Regions from separate parts of the Homo sapiens genome. Here region 1 is linked to region 2. Evidence: fine-mapped expression QTL. Tissue or cell type: lung. Region 2 holds a variant in brackets; the other region holds the start of a gene. All regions are shown on one strand. Distances are between the middles of the regions. Region 1 holds the start of FGD1 (FYVE, RhoGEF and PH domain containing 1). Region 2 overlaps FGD1 (FYVE, RhoGEF and PH domain containing 1).

Region 1 (4,375 bases), 20 kb after region 2:
TCAGCCCACACTGAGGGAGCCCCCTGAAATCTCCCAGAGGTTCCATGACTAGCCCAAGGTCATGAAGGCACCAAAAGGCACATCCTACCCATGCTTTATACTTCACTACTGCTACCTGGTGCAAGGCCACGGTCCCAGAGATCTGTGGAGCCTGAGGTGTGAACCCGGGAGCCCCCAAGGGCTTAACAACTCCTTCAGTCCCAGTGGAAGGCAGGGCAGATGTGCGCTGCTCTTCTTCTGTGGCTCCTGGGCTCAGGCCCGTATGAGAATGTCCCCAGATGGGGAAGGTCCTGCTGTGCTCCTCAGACACTCAGGTCTGTGTAGCACAAAGGCAGTGGTCTGTGGCCTCAGCCTGACTTAAAGCTGCTCCACCTTTTCAAATCCAAGAAACCATCCTGATTTCACATCACAACCAACCTCGTGGACCTGCAGCTCTCCAGCTCCTGCTACAACTGGCTTCTGCCTCTGTTGGCTTTTCTGCTGTCTCCCTACCTATCAGCCCCTCCAGCCTTCTCCTCTAGCCTGACTCCCAAGGCCCACCTCTTCCACCTTTCTCTCTCAGCACCTTCTACTCCTTCCTTCCCTTGTTCTCCCGCCACACACACCTGGCAAAATCTCAACCTTGGATCAATCCACCGTCTTTCTTTTTTTTTTTTTTTTTTTTTTTTTCCGCTCATACTCCAGGGCTGCTGAATAGTACAGGAGAAAATCACATAAGCAGAAGGCTTGGCATTACTTTCATGGTCTCCAGCCTCAGTTTGGGGAAGCAGAAAGACCACAGACTTTGGACACAAACAGATCTGGTTTGAATCGTGGCTCCATACTAGCTGTGTGACCTTGGGCAAGTTGCTTAACTTCTCTGAGCTTCAGTTTCCTTCCCTACAAAATGGGACTAATGGTATCTACTTCATGAGGGTTCCTGAAGCTGAAATGAAAATCCATGTAAAGCACCCAGTCCAGTGCCTGGTACAATGTAGGCGCTTGGCAAATGTAAGGCTCCTTTTTTTCTTCTGTTCTCCAAACGAAACCCTGGTTTCCCCAACCAAATATCCAAGGATTGCTGCCTTGCAATCCTCCCTCTTTTTCTCGCGAGTGCTCCCTCTCCCATTAGCCTCAGCAGACAGAGGAGAAGGGGGTTGGAGAGGTTGAGGGGCACAAGGGACAGAGAGAGGAGATGGGGACAGAGGTTGAAAGGACTGGACATAAGGCCAAGGGACGTGGGGAGGAGGAGGGGTTTGAGGGAACCCAAAGGGCCGAGGTAAGCGAGCCTGTTCCGAGGTGGGGCTTAGAGGGCTCGAGAACAAGAACCCGCTCCCAGTACCAGGCCCGTGGCCCGGGCTCCCATGCTCTCTCAGTCGCTCACTCACCAGGCCGAGGCTGCGAGCCCTCCAGGTGGTAAGAGAAGCGCAGGGCCCGGTGGTGCTGTGGACTGGGACCGCAGGGCAAGACCCGGTGGCCTGGAGCAGCGCCCAGGCTGGTGTCCGAGGGTCCGACAAACTGGGGATCCAGTGGGCCGCCAAGAGCCGAACCTGAGCCCCTGCGCGCCAGCAGTCCGGGTTCCGAGGCTCCAGGGTCCGAGTCGGCACAGGCCGGCGGAGCGGCGCCCGGCGGGTTCGTGGCCGGGTGTTCGGGCTCCGAAGGCCCGGCGCCCCCCGGGGCTCGGTGGCCATGCATGGTCCGGGCCTGGGCGCGGGGCCCGAGCTCCCCGCTTGGCTCCAGCTCCTGGGGCGGAGGCGCGGGCGGAGGAGGCCCGGCGCCCGGCGGAGCAGCGGCCTCAGGATCGGGGGGCGGGACTGCGGGCTCAGCCCCACTGCAGAGACTCAAGCCCCCAGCCCGGGCCCGGGCCAGCAGCCGTGGCAGCGGTGGCAGTAGCAGCAGCAGCAGCCGCGGCCACCGCCGCTGCCGTGCCAGGCATCGCCGGCCCCGGCCCCGGCCCCGCGCGGGGAGTGGGCTCGGCGGGGCCGGGGGCCCGCTGGGGAGCGCTGTCTATGCGGCTGCGGTTGGGCGAGGGTTGGAGGGCTACGCTCGGCGGGGACTCTCCGGTGGACGGCGAGCCACTTCCGTGGCCCCGGGGCGAGAAGTCGGTCGGATCCAAGTGCGGGGTCTCTTCTTTCTCCCCGAATGGGAATAGATCTGGGCTCTCCTGGCTGGTTGGGAAGCGTTCTTCCTCCCGCCGCAGCCGAGGCCGGGGGCGGAGGAGAGGGGAGGGGAGAGGAGGGGAGGGAAGAGAGAACGGCGGTGGCCGGGGGCGCGCGTGTGCGCTGCGCTTGGGCTGCGGGGCTCGCCTTCAGCCAGTAGTCCCAGACGATGCTCCAGCCGCGGGGGCAGGAGAACGGCCTGGGCCGGGCTCCACCGTCCTCCCCAGCTTCAGCCTGGGTCTCGGCGGCGGCGGGCGGGAAGGAGCCCTGGGAAGGGGGGTGGGGAGGCGGGAGCCTCGCAGAGGCAGCCGCAGCCACAGCGGCACTGGGACCCAGTTACCGGGGCCCCGCCCCCTCGCCCGGGATTTGCGCCTGACCACGCCCCCTCGCTCGGGGCCGCCTCACTTCTCGCTGCTACCGCTCTCAAGGCCCTCCTGCCCCTTAAAAAATTCCCCCTCAGCCTGCTTTCCCCACAGGCAAGTCTCCGGGCTCAACCCCCTCCCCCCATATCTGCCCTTCCATCCCATCTCAGGTCTTCCCCCCTCTGCTTGCCGTTCACTCTCTTTTCCAAAACCCTTTCTTCATGTTCCTGAGTGTTCCTAGGGCTTGGCTCATAGAGGACCTGTCTCTGATTCTCCTTCACTTTGCTCAGACCAGATATCTTGGTCCCTTACTTAGTCACTTTCTTAAATACCCTCAGTTCCCTGATTTGTCGCATCCGCCTGGCAACATCCCAGTCTTGAATCGGTCCAACTGTCCGCCTTTTCCATGCCTGCGCCCAGGCAGCTAAACATTGCTGGGGAAAACTATTCAACTTCACAGATTTGTGCCACTATAAACCCATGGTTCCCAGCTTCTACCAGGCCCTCAGTTTTGACCCACAACCCTACTAGTCAGCTCTCCCTCTGTTCTCCACAGTGACCATTTCAAACCTTCTCCTTTCCCCTCAAACCCCAAGTGCTCCATCTGCCCTGTAACCCTCAGCAAATAACCTGACCTGCTGCAGAGAGTAAACAGAGCCACCGTAGAGGAAGCTCTTGACTTTTTGCTACGAAGCCTAGGAATTTGTCCTTGCTCCTTCCCAACAGCATCTAAACATAGACCTCTTCCATCTAAAAACAAATAAACAATTACCAAGAATTCTGCCTCTCCAACCACCTCCTTCTCTTCTCTTCTACAAACTTCTCAAAAGAGTTGCCTACACCCAACTGTCTTCATTTTCCCACCTCCCACTTATCTTTCAACCCACTCCAATCTGCCTCCACTACTTGCTTGAAACTGCTCTCTCTCATCAGGGTCTGCCATGAAACATCTCACTAAATCCCATAGAATCTTTTCTTTTTTTTTTTTTTTGAGACAAGAGTCTCACTCTGTCGCCCAGGCTGGAATGCAGCGGCACGATCTCGGCTCACTACAATCTCCGCCTCCTGGGTTCAAGCGATTCTTCTGCCTCAGCCTCCCGAGTAGCTACGCCCAGCTATTTTTTTGTATTTTTAGTAGAGACGGGGTTTCACCATACTGGCCAGGCTTGTCTCGAACTTCTAACCTTGTAATTCGCCGGCCTCTGTCTCCCAAAGTGCTGGGATTACAGGCGTCAGCCACCGCGCCCAGCCCCCATAGAATCTTTTCAGAGGTTATCCTACTTGGTTTCTTGATAGCATTTGGCACTGTTGACCACTCCCTCCTCCTTAAACCACTTCCATGACACTGCACTTTCCTTGTTTTTCTTCTACTTCCTTAGTAATTCTTTTTTTACTTTCCAGGCTCCTCTTTGTCCAACGCTTTATGCTGGTGCTCTTCAGGGCTTTGGCCTGAGCGCTCTTGTCCTCTCTCTACATGTGATTTTTTTTTCTTTCTTTCTTTCTGAGACAGAGTCTTGCTCTGTCGCCTAGGCTGGAGTGCAGTGGCGCGATCTAGGCTCACTGCAACTTCCGCCTACCGGGTTCAAGCTATTCTTCTGCCTCAGCCTCCCAAGTAGCTGGCATTACAGGCATGCACCACCAAGCCCGAATAATTTTTGTATTTTTAGTAGAGACGGGGTTTTGCCATATTGGCCAGGCAGGTCTCCAACTACTGACCTCAAGTGATCCACTTGAGGAAAGAGAAGCCTCGGATTACAGGCCGCTCTTTTCTTTATCTCATTTGCTCCCCTGGCTTCAATGATCATATCTTTGCTGATGACTCCCAAATTGATACCTCAAAACCAGATATTTCTCCTGACCCATGCATTCAACTGG
Region 2 (4,375 bases):
GGGAGGTGGAGGTTGCGGTGAGCCAAGATCATGCCACTGCACTCCAGCCTGGGCGACAGAGACTCCATCTCAAAAAAAAAATATATATATATATACAGGAAGATACACATAGTTTATATGCAAACAACATGCCATTTTATATAAGGGACTTGAGTGTTGGCGACTTTGGTATCTTCAGGCTGTCCTGGAACCAATTCCCCATGGAGACCAAGGGACAACTGTCATTTACTATGTCATACTCATCTAACAAACACATCCACGGTGTCCCTGGGTCTTAGCCATAGGCCCAGGAATACACACACTGTGGGACACTTGCCTCCTCCTAAATAGTCACATACAAACTCTGCTGTGAAAACATACACACACAAAGACCTCTGCAGCCTCCCTTCCAGGGTCACACAGGCAGAAAGAGTCACAGGGGATTTTAGGTCTCCCAGTCCCGGAGGGAAGAAATAGCCCAACCCACAGGGTTCCAGCAGCTTCCCTAGGCCCCTGACCTCACCCCTGGCTACATCCCAGCCAGGTCCACCCCAGGGGACTCAGATCAGGGTCCTTTCCCAGCACTGAGGGAACAGGGTGCCCCAGGCCCCAGGCCGAGCGCCCCTCCCCAACTCTGTACCTTGCTTTGGGTGTCGTTCCTCACTTCCTTCCCCACCTAAGCTGGCAGGGCCTGGCCAGGATGGAGGAGGCGCTCCTCTCCACTCAGCTGTGCCGCTTACCCTGCCCTGCTCAGCACATCCTGGCCTGGTCTTGCCCTGCCCTCCCCCTGGGCGTGGGGGTGAGGAAGATGAATCACCTGGAGGGTGGCACAGGCGGAGATGTGGTTGGAGAGACACATGGCCAGAGCAAGGGAGAGAGACAGAGAGGAGCTGACAGGGCCAGAGAGGCAGTGAGTAAAGCCAGGCACCCTGCCATGCAGAGACCCCTCCTCAGATATACACACATAGGTGCCAGGGTCCCTGGTGCCCCTTGTCTGCCTCCTTGGGCCTGGAGGAGCCCACCTATCTCCACACCTCAAAGCAGGCAGGCCTCTCTGGGCAAGCCCTCCCTACCCTATCTGTAGCAAAGCAGCAGGGTCCCTGGATAATGCTGCTCTCCTTCTCCTCCAGTGCTGGTCCTCGGGATGGAGTGACCATACATCCCACTTTCCATGGCCCTGCCCTAGCCCACCCATTGCTCCCTCCTCACCCATCTCACCTGACAGCCCACAGACAGACCTGCCTCTCCATTCTCTCTGCCTCCTTGCAGGCAGCCCTGCAGGAAGAGGAGGCTGAATGAAATGCAAAGATTCCCTGGAGTCCCAGGTGAGAGGAAAAGAGATTGTCAGCCCAGTTTCTAGTGAGGAGATGGAGTCAGAGAGAGAGGCAGTGACTTGCCCAAGGTCACAGAGCAAATCAATGAATGGCACACTTTTGGGCAGACTGGTCATGGACTGGATTCCTTTCTTATTAACCCTGCTCTCCAAGGGCAAGCTGGAAAAGAGGGGAACCAGGAGGGGCGGGTGGACCCAACGGCTTCCGAAAGTCACAAACTGCAGTGTAGCTAGTCAGAGGGACACCCCTCAACCCTGTCCACAGGGAGTTGAACAGGGGTCCAGTTTAGGAGCCTAGGCCTGGCCAAGAACCAGGCTAGGTTTCACTGAGCGGGAGAAGGTTCAAGATCCCTCCCTCTCGTTTCAGAACTCCCTCTCCCTTGTCTCTCTGCCTACATTTCCCTGTCTCCTATTTTCCCTCAGTGGCCTCCTTGGCTCCAAGTCTTGCTCCCTCCAGGTGGCTGAATGAACTTACGTACAGTCCAGCTCAGATCATGCCACTTACCTGCACAAGAACCTTCTGTAACTCCCTACTGTCCATGGGAAAATAGAAACTTCTCAGCTAGGCCGGGCGCGGTGGCTCACGCCTTTATTCCAATACTTTGGGAGGCTGAGGTGGGTGGATCACCTGAGGTTGGGAGTTCGAGACCAGCCTGACCAACATGGAGAAACC[C/T]GATCTCTACTAAAAATACAAAATTAGCTGGGCGTGGTGGCGCATGCCTGTAATACCAGCTACCGGGAGGCTGAGGCAGGAGAATCGCTTGAACCCAGGAGACGGAGGTTGTGGTAAGCTGAGATCGCACCATTGCACTCCAGCCTGGGCAACAAGAGCGAAACTCTGTCTCAAAAACAAACAAACAAACAAACAAACAAAAACACCAAAAAAAGAAACTTCTCAGCTAGCTCTCAGTGGCCCCTCATGACCATGCTGAACTCTATGGCTTTCCTTGGCTGAGTTTGGTCTCCAGAATATTTTTGAACCTAGTAGACCCTGTGCTTGGAGATGAGAAAATCCCATCCCTGCCCTTGGGGAGCTCCCAGGGTAGGCCCCCCTCCTCCTTCCTAGAAACCACAGCCATTCCCACTGCCCCATCCCGTCCCTACCCAGCAAGGTCCTGGATTCATTTTCTCCAGCCCTTTTTTTTTTTTTTAAGACAGGGTATTGCTCTGTTGCTTAGGGTTAAGTACAGTAGTGTGATCAGGTCACTGTAACCTCAAATTCCTGGGCTCAAGTGATCCTCCCATCTCAGCCTCCCAAGTAGCTGGGACTACAGGTACTCACTACCATGGCTGGCTATTTTTAATTTTTTTTGTAGAGATGGGGTCCTTCTTTGTTGCCCAGGCTGGTGTCAAACTCCTGGCTTCAAGAGATCCTCCTGCCTCTGCCTCCAAAAGTGCTGAGATTACAGGCATGAGCCAGTGTGCCCAATTCCAGCCCATTTTTCTTGTGGTTGATAATCCACAACATTATCACACCCACACCCACACCTCCACACCTGACAAGATCCTCCACCAGCACTGCCCCTTCCATCAACGGATTTATAATTCCCCAATGCCCAGTAGAGCAGAGATCACCAAAAAGCCCCCGTCACACACATTTGGTCACACCACCAAATCTTTCTTATTTTTTATTTTTGAGGTGAGGCCTTACTATTTTGCCCAGGCTGGTGTCGAATTCCTGGGCTCAAGCAATCCTCCTGTCTCAGCCTCCCAAGTAGCTGGGACTACAGGTGTGTACCACCACACCCAGCCACCACCAAATCTGATAACACTTTGTGGAAATGTACCCAGCCACACACCAACTGTGCACATCCCTCAAAGACCCAGAGAGAGAACCACAGAGCTACTCATGTCTGTGTGCACCGTGCTCGGCACAACTGCACACACACAACCACCACTGCCACTCGGACATCTCTTGTCACCTAGGAAAGCATACTCTAGGCACCCCAGGAGTGCCAGTGCACTGTGCCAGCTCTGCTGTGGGGATGGGGGTGGGGTATGCACCCTTCCTGCCCCACTCTCAAACCCCTGCCCCCCCAGGCATTCAGCAGGCCAGAAGGGCAATCTTGACCCTTACCCTCAGGGAGCTCCCAATCTCAAAGACAAAGACTCTAACTCAGGAAAGGCAACGAGGGCGAGCCTGTGGGGACTGGGGAAGCTCAGTGGAGGAGAATGGATAGGGTGGCCAGATAAAATACAGGACACTCAGTTAATTTTTTTTTTTTTGAGATGGACTTTCGCTCTTGTTACCTAGGCTGGAGTACAATGGTGCGATCTCAGCTCACTGCAACCTCCGACTCCTGGGTTCAAGCAATTCTCCTGCCTCAGCTTCCCGAATAGCTGAGATTACAGGTGCCTGCCACCAAGCCCAGCTAATTTTTGTATTTTTGTAGAGATGGGGTTTCACCATGTTAGCCAGGCTGGTCTCGATCTCCCGACCTCAGGTGATCCACCTGCCTCAGCCTCCCAAGGTGCTGTGATTACAGGCGTAAGCCACCATGCCCGGCCACTCAGTTAAATTTGAATTTTAGATAAACAAGGAATGTTTTAGTATAATATGTCTCATGAATACTTATACTAACAATTTCTTAAGCTATACTTAAAAAATGACTTGTTGGGCCAGGCGCAGTGGCTCATGCCTGTAATCCCAGCACTTTAGGAGGCCGAGGTGGGTAGATCATGAGGTCAGGAGTTCGAGACCAGCCTGACCAACATGGCGAAACACCGTCTCTACTAAAAATACAAAAATTAGCTGGGCATGGTGGCAGGCGCCTGTAATCTCAGCTACTCGGGAGGCTGAGGCAGGAGAATGGCTTGAACCCGGGAGGCGGAGGCTGCAGTGGGCCGAAATCATGCCACTGCACCCCAGCCTGGGCGACAGAGTGATACCCCGTCTAAAAACAAAATGACTTATTGTATATCTGAAATTCAAATCTAATTGTATTAAATACTTTCTGAAGGCTAATTCTGGCAACGCTAGTCAGGGAAAGCTTCCAAATGAATGTGGCAGAGCCGGGCCTTCAAGACAGCACCTGGTAGCCAGAGTTCCCCCAGACTCTTGTC

The links. PIP is the estimated chance that this variant, and not a neighbour inherited with it, causes the effect.
Region 1: it holds the start of FGD1, and the variant in region 2 is the best candidate, but not a certain one, in a credible set for the expression of FGD1 in lung (TOPMed, PIP 0.82).

What each region holds. Positions count from the first base shown.
Region 1 is chrX:54,493,759-54,498,133 of GRCh38, forward strand. It overlaps FGD1 (FYVE, RhoGEF and PH domain containing 1), which reads right to left and starts at 2,476. Exons shown (of 18, transcript NM_004463.3): 1 at 1,368-2,476. The coding sequence starts at 1,674. RefSeq lists a silencer at 2,539-2,588.
Region 2 is chrX:54,473,909-54,478,283 of GRCh38, forward strand. The region is part of intron 1 of FGD1 (FYVE, RhoGEF and PH domain containing 1); the gene reads right to left. Among named protein-coding and RNA genes, the nearest start is that of FGD1, 20 kb to the right of the region's middle. The variant C/T (reference allele first, on the strand shown) is at 1,986.